Regions from separate parts of the Homo sapiens genome. Here region 2 is linked to region 1. Evidence: fine-mapped expression QTL. A gene starts in region 1. The other region holds a variant in brackets. All regions are shown on one strand. Distances are from middle to middle. Region 1 holds the start of CNTN4-AS1 (CNTN4 antisense RNA 1). Region 2 overlaps CNTN4 (contactin 4).

What was found.
Region 2: its variant is fine-mapped to the expression of CNTN4-AS1 in whole blood (TOPMed, PIP above 0.99).

What each region holds. Positions count from the first base shown.
Region 1 is chr3:3,058,178-3,063,562 of GRCh38, reverse strand. CNTN4-AS1 (CNTN4 antisense RNA 1) reads left to right here and starts at 2,418. Exons shown (of 4, transcript NR_046554.1): 1 at 2,418-2,496.
Region 2 is chr3:3,039,916-3,045,300 of GRCh38, reverse strand. It overlaps CNTN4 (contactin 4), which reads right to left. Exons shown (of 25, transcript NM_175607.3): 20 at 5,030-5,264; 21 at 2,879-2,991; 22 at 2,138-2,324; 23 at 1,597-1,709. It overlaps CNTN4-AS1 (CNTN4 antisense RNA 1), which reads left to right. Exons shown (of 4, transcript NR_046554.1): 2 at 2,288-2,388; 3 at 4,147-4,256; 4 at 4,919-5,385. Among named protein-coding and RNA genes, the nearest start is that of CNTN4-AS1, 19 kb to the left of the region's middle. The variant G/A (reference allele first, on the strand shown) is at 2,332.

The DNA.
Region 1 (5,385 bases):
GGACGCTGAGGCAGGAGAATCACTTGAACCCGGGAGGCGGAGGTTGCAGTGAGCCGAGATTGCGCCATTGCACTCTATCCTGGGCAACAAGAGCAAAATTCCGTCTCAAAAAACAAACAAAAAAAAAACAAAACCTCTTTTCTGCCAGCTCTAAGAGGAACTTCACCCACCAGCCCTGTCTCTCTGGACACACACACATCCCATCCTCACACCATCCAAGGAAAAGTGGGAAGGAGAGTTCAGCAAACGAAACAGAACTCAAAACAGCAAACTTCATGTCTCGCCCTCAGAGCCATTGACCTTCAGAGATCTGACAACACATTCGCAAGACCCTGAAATTTTGAATTACAAATTAATTACTTCAATGAGAGTAATGAAGACCTCCTGGTGTCAGGTTGCCAGATTTAGCAAATAAAAATAAGAGGCTCAGTTAAAGTTGAATTTCAAATAAATATCACATGGGGCATACTTATACTAAGGAAGCATAATTTTTTTTTTATCTGAAATCTAAGTTTAATAGCTCCTCTCCTATTTTATTGGGTAATCCTGATCTTGAAGGGTAGCCGGAGTTTAAAGAAACAGCTCTAAGACACCTGAAGTCAAGGACAACGAACACGCAAAAAACAACATTTGCAGTCAAGGAAAGAGAAGCAGAGAAGCTGAGCCACTTTAGAGCAGACTGAAGCTCATGACTGCCTTTCCTTCTTGTTGCTATATGGGAACCGTATCTATCTGTCTATTTATCTATCTACCTACCTTATTGTTTATGTATCATCTATTTACAGATAGAGACATCTAATGTTTTGGAGTAGGGCCCTAAACCCAAGCCACCAGCATTTCAATTCCTGGTCTCTCTGATCAACTGTGTGATCAGGGACAAATGTGAACCTGTCAACCTCAATCCTCTGTGTATAAAATAGGAATAATAAATGGTAACTAAATCGGTAGGTTGATTTGCACTGAGTCTGGCACATATTATAAGCATAATCACTGTTTACTATTATTATTATCATTGCATTTCTCTGTATTGTGACAAAATACTGTTACTGGTGCCTTGGCTTCCTCACACACATCTGAATGCCACATCATTCTTCTATGCCCAGAATAGTGCCTGGTACAGAGAGGGCTGCCAGTAGTCCCTTGCTGAATAACTAAAACCCTCTCCAGGCACCTATCCTATCCCATTCCTCCAGATGGCTGTGCCCTGGGCCTGGCCGGCACTCAGAACTTCTCCACCTCCAGCATCTGAACCTCAGACATCTCACCCTTCTACCTCACCATTTCCTCTGGCCTACCTACTTGTCCTAGAATGTTCTCTAGTTGAACTTCAGAGTCTAGTTCCTTACTCCATCCTGTCCTTTCTCTAAGTACTTATTTCTAGGTGTATGAAATGCACTAATGAGTCTATGTTCTAAATTCTAGTCCTTCTTTTTTTTTTTTTCTTTTGTTTGAGACAGAGTCTCACTCTCTTGCCCAGGCTAGAGTGCAGTAGGGCAATCTCAGCTCACTACAACCTCTGCCTCCCAGGTTCAAGCAATCCTCCTGCCTCAGCCTCCTGGGTAACTGGGACTACAAGCACGTGCCACCATGCCCAGCTAATTTTTGTATTTTTAGTAGGAATGGGGTTTCACCATGTTGGCCAGGCTGGTCTCGAACTCTTGACCTTGTGATCCCCCCACCTCAGTCTCCCAAAGTGCTGGGATTACAGGTGTGAGCCACCATGCCCAGCCCTGACTTTCTAATTGTCTATGTTACTTTGGGCTTCTTATATAACCTCTTTGCTTCCATTTCATAAATAAAAAAGGAATAAAAACCTATGTCCTCCCCTTATTAGTGTGAAAAGCACTTTGAAAACTAGAAAAACAAATTAAAGATATTACTATTTGTTAAAGTCCTAGGACATATATATTTCCTGGTATAGTTCGTGTTATTCCTAACAATAAGGATATGTGGCAAAAACCCAGTTTACAGAGAATGGGGATATCACATGTAATTGCATCTATATTTAAGTAGCTCAGCCTTCCAATTTCCAGACTTTCAGATCGATCATATGGTTGACCTTTTTTAAAAAAAGCTTTCTCTCTATGTGATCTATATCACTAGAGCTCTGCTAATCTACCATGGCCCATAACTGCTTGTGATAAAGGATAGAGGCCAATTTTGTTTAAACTGTGATCTCTGTTGAGTATTGTAGTTTGCAGGTGAGTTGCAGAGCTGGAACATTTAATCCGCATGGCCCATTTAGCACAAGGGGAAACGGGGCCTCTTTGCAGAATGGGCAGCCTGACTTGCATTTACTAATCACACTCTGGCAGGGGGCCTGAGGAAATCACAGGAAACGGGGCCAGATATTCTCCTCCCTCTAGGTCTGAGATGGAGGTGACACAGGCCTTGTGCCTGGGAGCACAATGAGGAACCACACCCAGATGCCAACGCTGAGGTGCCGTGTGTCTACTATAAGGCGGAAGACACCAACAAAAATGATTTAAATATAAGGTACGAAGGGATGACTGACATGAGTGGGTACAGACCCCATCCCCTGGAGGTCAGAGAAATGCAAGGTCAATTTCAGATGGGGAAGCTGAGGGAGGCTTTGTGCAAAACCTGGCATCTGAATGGGAACCCTACTGCCTAAGTTTGAATTAGTTGATTGTATGATTAAAATTATCGAACATTAAAATTTATATTAAGAAGTGATCATGTTTAAATAAAAGGTGATAATGGATGTGTCAGCTGAGTTCCACTCATTTTGGTGATAAGAAGCATCCACATCCTACATCTGTGGGTCTAGTAAAGTCCCTGGAGAAAAAGAACAATAACAGACGGTAAAATCATCACTGTTTGGAGAGCTTTACAAACTTTATCCTCCCTAATAAGTAGCCAATCATTACAATGCACCCCAGGCAGTCAAACTCCAGGATCCACGTCCTTAGTCTTTGTATTAGGCTGCCTTTGTAAGGCCTCAGTGTCTGGCATTTTGTAATGGAAAAATCTGGGGTATGTCCACAGATTGAATATAAGTCCTTGATTTTAAAGGCTTGCCTTTCAAAGCACTATGGTTGGCCACATAACGTTTTTAGCCAGAACATTTTGTAAATTGTAACAACAGGAAAATAACAGTCACTTCTTGATTATAAGTGTTAACGGAGGAGAACAGTAGCATCGATAATCCAATGTAGTGAACAAAAATCACCTGTTGGTTGATTACATTAGATTAAAAACTGCATGACATTTTTGTTGCTAATTATGTGCTATTTGTATACTTTTTATAACTCAACATTCTTTGCGCATATTTGTAGTGAGGCAAGGTGGTGGAAGAGACTGGGTAAAGGTTAATCAGGATTTAACATTGCCTCCTGGATATAAACAACCACAATTTTGATGGTGGGAATAACACAATCATTCTTTCTTAATATCAAAGTCTATGCACCTTCTACCTCACAGGCTGGAAGAATTCAGAGCTTACCTGAGAAATGAAGCTTATCATCCATGTCTTCTGTGCCCATGGAAAGGTGCTGCTTTGTATGTAGCATGTGTGGGCTCCATAGAAAGTAGGTACACTGAGAGAATCCAAATATCTGGCACAATAGAATTTCCTTTCATACAGTTAAATCACAAGTGGACTACACACACAAAAAGGAGGGCAAGAGTAAGCACTTTGAAAGGTTAAACAAGCAAAGCAAATTTTCCTAGTGGTCCTCCTTCAGAAAAAAATCTCAAGCAGCAATATAGTCATTCCACTCGAGTGTATTACTTGGGCTAAGGGCCTAAGAAAGTCCCCTTGGCTGGCTAAGCCTAGAAAATCTGTTACTTATACCAACCCAGCATTTCTTCTCTTACCTTTGGAAAACAGCATCTTAGTTTTCCTTTAACTATCCCTCCCCTGTGAGTACAAGGTACTCTGGCTGTGGAACTCAAATGGAACTGATCACTTTCCCAGGAATCTGAATATTGAGCATAATGGCGTCAAAATTGGAAACAAAGCTGATTCATCCCCACAATAGCACCCCAAAAAGACTTTCCAAAGTTCCCATTGTCTGGACCCACAGAGTGGCCTGGTTCTTATTCTCCTCAAGAGTTGGTCCTTCAGTGTTTCCTTGGCTCATATGATGTAACCTGTGTCATTCTAATTCCTTACTTTTTGTTTGCTCAAGTTACCCAGGGTCGTTTCTTTGCTTACAGCCAGTGGACCCTACCTGAGGCAACCATGAAAGCCAACAAATGAGACAAGTTTGGGTGGAGGTGCTCATGGGGCACTTTCTAAAACATCTTCAATTCAGTTAGACTCAACTAATCCAGGACCTCATTTACCCGATGATGAAGCCAATTGGTCAAAGACTTCTTCCAGGTACAAAGTTAGAAGCCAGGCCTTTTAACGCTTTTCAGCACATAACGAAAGTAATGACACAGTCTTCCCTGGTTGGTTTGCTGTGGCACACAGGCAGGCAACTGATGCAAAATGCTACTTCAAAGACCCCTTCATTCAATTAATCAGTGAGTATTTATTGCAAGGCACTGTGCTAGGCACTATGGAGAGTACATGGAAGATAAGACCAAAGTCCCTGCCCTCAAGGAGCTTACAATCTAGTTGGGAAGACAAGCCATACATACAAGAAAAAGTAAGTAACAATACAGGAGTTAAATTAAAATGCAAGATAACAGTACAAGAGATTTCCAAAAGTAGTATCTGATTAATTACTAAATGAGCAGCATTGATAGGGGATGCAACTACTTCCAAGCGAGAATGTCATAAAGGACTGAAGCATGGGAAGTCTTTGCAGACAAACTGGGGCTGGAGCTACCCTAGGACAGCAGGGATCTGAATGGGAGAGAAGGGTGGAGAAGGCATTTCAGGAAGGGGCAGCCATAAGACCAAAGGCACAGAGGTGAGACCAAAAGCAAGCAGTGTTCAGGGGTCAGGGAGGGCTTACTGTGGCTGGATACACAGTTAAATCGTTTTGGATTAAAAAGGGCCTTAAGGGCCGGGTGCGGTGGCTCAAGCCTGTAATCCCAGCACTGTGGGAGGCCGAGGCGGGCAGATCACCTGAGGTCAGGTGTTTGAGACCAGCCTGACTAACATGGTGAAATCTCGTCTCTACTAAAAATCCAAAAATTAGTCCGGTGTAGTGGTGGGCGCCTCGGGAGGCTGAGGCAGGAGAATTGCTTGAACCTGGGAGGCGGAGGTTGCAGTGAGCCGAGATCGCAACATTGCACTCCAGCCTGGGTGACAAGAGTGAGACTCCGTCTCAAAAAAAAAAGAGCCTTAAATGCTCAAGCTTAGAACTTACCCTTTTAGCAATGGGGGGTGAGGGAAACAACAGATATACTTACAGTAAATATACAAAAGACTTAGCTAATCAAGAGAAAATATTCAAGTCTCATCTT
Region 2 (5,385 bases), 18 kb after region 1:
CTCCGTGCTGGGGGAAACACTATTCTCTTCAAAGCTGTCAGACAGGGACATTTAAGTCTGCAGAGGTTTCTGCTGCCTTTTGTTTGGCTATGCCCTGCCCCCAGAGGGCAAGGAGGCAGGCAGGCCTCCTTGAGCTGCAGTGGGCTCCACCCAGTTTGAGCTTCCAGGCCGCTATTTACCTACTCAAGCCTCAGCAATGGCAGGCGCCCCCTCCCCCAGCCTCACTGCTGCCTTGCAGTTCGATCTCAGACTGCTGTGCTAGCAACGAGCAAGGCTCTGTGGGCATGGGACCCTCTGAGCCGGGCATGGGACCCTCTGAGCCATGCATGGGATATAATCTCCTGGTGTGCCGTTTGCTAAGACCATTGGAAAAGCGCAGTATTAGTATTAGGGTGGGAGTGCCCTGATCTTCCAGGTGCTGTCTGTCACAGCTTTGCTTGGCTAGGAAAGGGAATTCCTTGACCCTTTGCCCTTCCCAGGTGAGGCGATGCCTCGCCCTGCTTCAGCTTATGCTCGGTGCACTTCCCCCACTGTCCTGCGCCCACTGTCCGACAAGCCCCATTGAGATGAACCCAGTACCTCAGTTGGAAATGTAGAAATCACCAGTCTACTGCGTTGCTCACGCTGGGAGCTATAGACTGGAGCTGTTCCTATTTGGCCATCTTGGAACTGCCCACGTCCATCCTTAGCTTTTAAAAGGGCTGGCAGCTTCTGCTTTCTTCCTCTTGAAGCTGACAACTATGTAAGAAATCCGACTACTCTGAGGTCACCATACTGTGAGGAAGCCCAGGTTATCCGTGGGGAAAGGCCTCATAGAGAGCATGATCACTGGCCAGCCTCAGCTTTCCCACCTATCCCATCCAAGAAGCCAAAAGTGTGTGAAGAAGCATCTTAGTTATTCCAGCCCTAAAATCTGTCCATTCTGGCCCTATCCACATTGCAAAGTCATAAAAAATGATACACTGTTGCTGTTTTAGCCCCTAGCTTCAGGTTGGTTTGTTAGGTAGCAAATAGGTAGCTGGAAACGTTGCAAGATATTTATAACCCTTTTTGATTGCTGCAAGAAGGCTACAGACATGTTCTTTTCATTTTCTCATTAAAGACAAGCCAACATTTATGGGGTCAGGCAAACATTTTCTCCACTTTTCCTGCTTTTTCTCTCTTTTCTCTTTTTCTTTATATAACTCTTGACTATAGAAACATACGAACAAAAATGATTAATCATTGGTAATATCAGGAGGCTACTAAGTTGACTAAAAAATATATATAAACCGAGACAGGAGCAAAACGAAGCTGACAGTAGGAATGTTTAAAAAGTGGTTCTTCAGGGTATTTTTGGAGACCCAAACACAGGGTCTTTATCCATTTCTGATTGATGCTGCCTGAGACTAAAGTTAAGGTGATTGTCTAAATCCTGACCAATTGCCATAGACTATTTATACAACTCAGATCAAACCGTGTTGGAGGCAGCGATTCCTAGAGGGTAGGAGAGCATCACCAGGGAAACTGACAATGCAGACAACTGTATAATTCATGGAGGAGACTGCCCCCACTCACAGCACGATTAGGTGCCTTTGCAAAAAAGAAATTACCTACTTTGTATCCTTTTACTTCCGACTCATTATCCAGGGCCTTCACTTGATCCCAATTCAGGATAATTTTGGAGTCTGATGAATTCCATATGATGTTTCCGGGGGGTTGACTTGGTGCTATAAAAAAATTAAGATATACGAAGTCACAGATTATTAAGTCTCAATGGATTCTGAGGAATATCTCCTTACTAGAATTCGAGAGTGGAGGCAATTTAATGGGCTATTGCACTAATATGTGTCTTCAAGGTCACTAAAATCTGATGAGATACAGCATTGCAAATGGAAAAAGATTCAGTTGGTCGCCTAACATTTATAGCTAAAAGAAGTAGCCCTTCCCAGTGAGGAGAAAAACATTTATCTTTCTGTCCTCCACAGCAATGAATTTTGCGTGGTATACGGAAAGGTTCAGTTAAAATGCTGAGGGAAATTTGAATCCACATGCTACTAATTAGTATGCAAATGATCATTGGGAGGTGGGGATAAGGAATAAACTTGGGATATGTGTGATGAATCCCCAAAATATTTCTGAGCAAGTCTGTTCTTACGTGGCTTTCGGGTTGTCACATTGACTGTTGCACTAGAGGGGCCTGTCCCAGCAGAATTATATGCCTTGACAGCTAAGTGATACAGCACACTGCCTTTTAAGTTCGTGATTTTTGTTGATGTCTGATTTCCAACTGTTCGTATTTTTCTAGCATTTTCTTCTTTGTCTTCATGTCTCCAATATTTAACCTAAGAA[G/A]ATAAACAGAAAGACCTTGGAAACCATACCCAATGGGGATATTTGCAATGTCATCAGGTAATTTTGTACGCAGATTCTTATGATGGAGTTAGTTTTCTATACTACATCATGAGCAGAGCTATCAGGACAAAGGACTCTGTATATCCTGAGAAATTATCCAAAGTAAGAAGGGTCCCTTTTTTGTCCTTAGCTTCCTAGTGAGACGGTACATTGACACAACCGTCGTTCATTATTTTCTTTTTTCCCATGTTTGTTTTGAGTCAAAGTGATCCTGGGCATATCAGAAGTCAAAGCTCATTTTGCCAACCATCCCGTAAATGCTTAGATTTGCATATAATTCGAAAAATACCTCTAGAATATAACATAGAAAAAGGGTAGTCTCACAGCTGAGTATTCAATGCTTCCATTAATGTTCAGCTGGAAGCCAGGCCTAAAACCAATGCCTCTTAGTGGGAATGTGGGTCTCTTCCTATAAGAATGTGACTTGGAGGACTTATCAAGGGGCATAGACTCTCTTTCAGACCCAAGGCACATATGTCTTGCCTACCTCATAACCTTGTATTCGTCCTCTATTCTTCTCCAGTGGGGAGGCCCAGAAAACTTCAATATCTGTGGCAGAAAGACTTCTGGCAAAGATACTGGCTGGTGGTTTGGTGGGTTCTGTAGATGAATATGGAGATAGTTATTACTCTATCAGCTATATTAGGACAGGATTGTAGATACTAGCATTATAAGGTAAAATAATTCATGGTTATAGAATCGTCCTTAATGATTGTAAGCCAAACCCTCATTTTGCAGAGGGGCAGTGATTAATAGCTGGAGTTGGTGGTAGTGAATATTTGTCCAGTGTTTGGGTTCTGAATTTAGGTGTGGGTAGAAGAGAAGAACCACTTAAGTTTAAGCACCAAGTTTTCATAGCCAGCAATTCCCTTAACACAGATCCTTCTTAATTAGCATCTCACAAATGTTATTGCTTACGACATGGCTAAACTGCTTCTCTTTTTCTTTTTTGAAATAGGGTCTCACTCTGTCACCTAGGCTGGAATGTAGTGGCACAATCATGGCTCACTGCAGCCTGACCTCCTGAGCTCAAGCCATCCTCCCGCCTCAGCCTCCCAAGTAGCTGGGACCACACACACATGTGCCAACACGCCTGGCTAATGTTTTTTTGTAAAGACTTGGATCTTGCTATGTTGCCCAGGTTGGTCTCAAACTCCTAGGCTCATGCTATCCTCCCACATCCCCCTCCCAAAGTGCTGGGATTACAGGCATGAGCCACTGTGCTTGCCCACTAAATTTTTTTTAAGGAAGACTATTGAAAGAAAAATGTGAACATATACAAATGGTACACAGCTATGGCAGAAATCTGGCAAAAATAACTGAAATTTGGGAAACAGTCAGTCTAGCCTCTCCTTTGCAGCCAAAGATGCTGAGGCCCACAGAGTATACCTGAGTTATCCAAGATCATACAGATTGCAGTGTGAACCTGAAGTGTCATCCAGCTCTCTTGAATCTTAGTCAAGTCAGCTGACTGTCCTTTTCCCCTTTTCCTCTCATTTTCATAATCCAGAGACATGAACTATTATCTAAGAGAAGTTGAAGGCTATGAAAAGGGCTGAAGCTTGTTTGAATAATTGTAAATCCTTTGGCAATGGTTGGAACATGAAATATGCAGGGAAAGGCATCAGCAGCTGAGGCAGACAGAGAGGCAGCAGCTAGATCATGGAGGGCTACTGAGTCTAAGGGGATGATCTCTCTGATTGGGAATAAGTTATTGCATCTTCACTGACTCTAAATCAATGATTCACCTTTCAGATGTTTTAACATGGTCCCATTCTGAGCATCATCTTTAAAACAACATAGACGAACTCCAAAGGTAACGAAGACTGTGTGAGAGGCATCCCGAGAGCAGGGATAGCATGGAGGTGATAATAATGTGTGAGAAATGTTAAACATAATGATGGTGTGGATGACAGTGAGCGCAATCACACTGCTTCATGACTTACTCTTTTCTTTAATAAGTGAGATTTTTTTTTTTTTTTGAGATGGAGTTTTGCTCTTGTTGCCCAGGCTGGAGTGCAGTGGTGCGATCTCGGCTCACCGCAACCTCCGCCTCCTGGGTTCAAGTGATTCTCCTGTCTCAGCCTCCTGAGTAGCTGGGATTACAGGGATGTGCCACTACAACTGGCTAATTTTATATTTTTAGTAGAGATGGGTTTTCTCCATATTGGTCAGGCTGGTCCCGAACTCCCAACCTCAGGTGATCCACCCGCCTTGGCCTCCCAAAAGTGTTGGGATTACAGGTGTGAGCCACAAGTACCATATGCTTTATGAAAATACAAGTGGTAAGAAAATGCAAATTATATTTTGATATTCACTTAAAGGCAAAAATAAAATTCTTTTGAAAGTAATGATAACATATAGATAGATATGAAGATCTTATATGGTATTTGCAATTCTGGTCCTTAGCAATGGAATCAATAATGGACAGCCAAGTGTTTTCATATACAGAGCAGTCGCTATCTTTTCAAGAGATTCATGGTGGACAGCGAACCAAATTGTTTACATTATCCTCTTCTCAAATCAGGTATGCCTTCAAGATACATGTACCATGCGAAATTGATTGTACGTGCTACAATCCACATTTTAGAATTGAAGAAATATTAACAGTCAATGATCTAGGCAGCATAAACGATACCTTCTTCTGCAGAATACACCACCGTGGTGGGACTGAAAGGGCCTTCTCCTTTGTTGTTGAAGACACCTACTTTAACCTCAAAGGGAGAGAAGGGGTGCACGCTCTCATTCCTGAACACGTATCTAGAGGCATCAGCTGAGGCCAGCACTGTCAGCATCCAGATCATTTTACCGTAGGGCCGGAAGGCCACCACATAACCAAAGCCTCGACCATTCTGTAATTCCTCAGGGACCGTCTGGGAAAGAAGGAAGGTGGTCTTCAGAAATCACAGTAGTTTCACTCAAATGCAAAAATCGTTTTTGTTTCCCTTGTAACATTCTTGTCTACATCCTTCTCCACCCATCTTATTTGGCGTT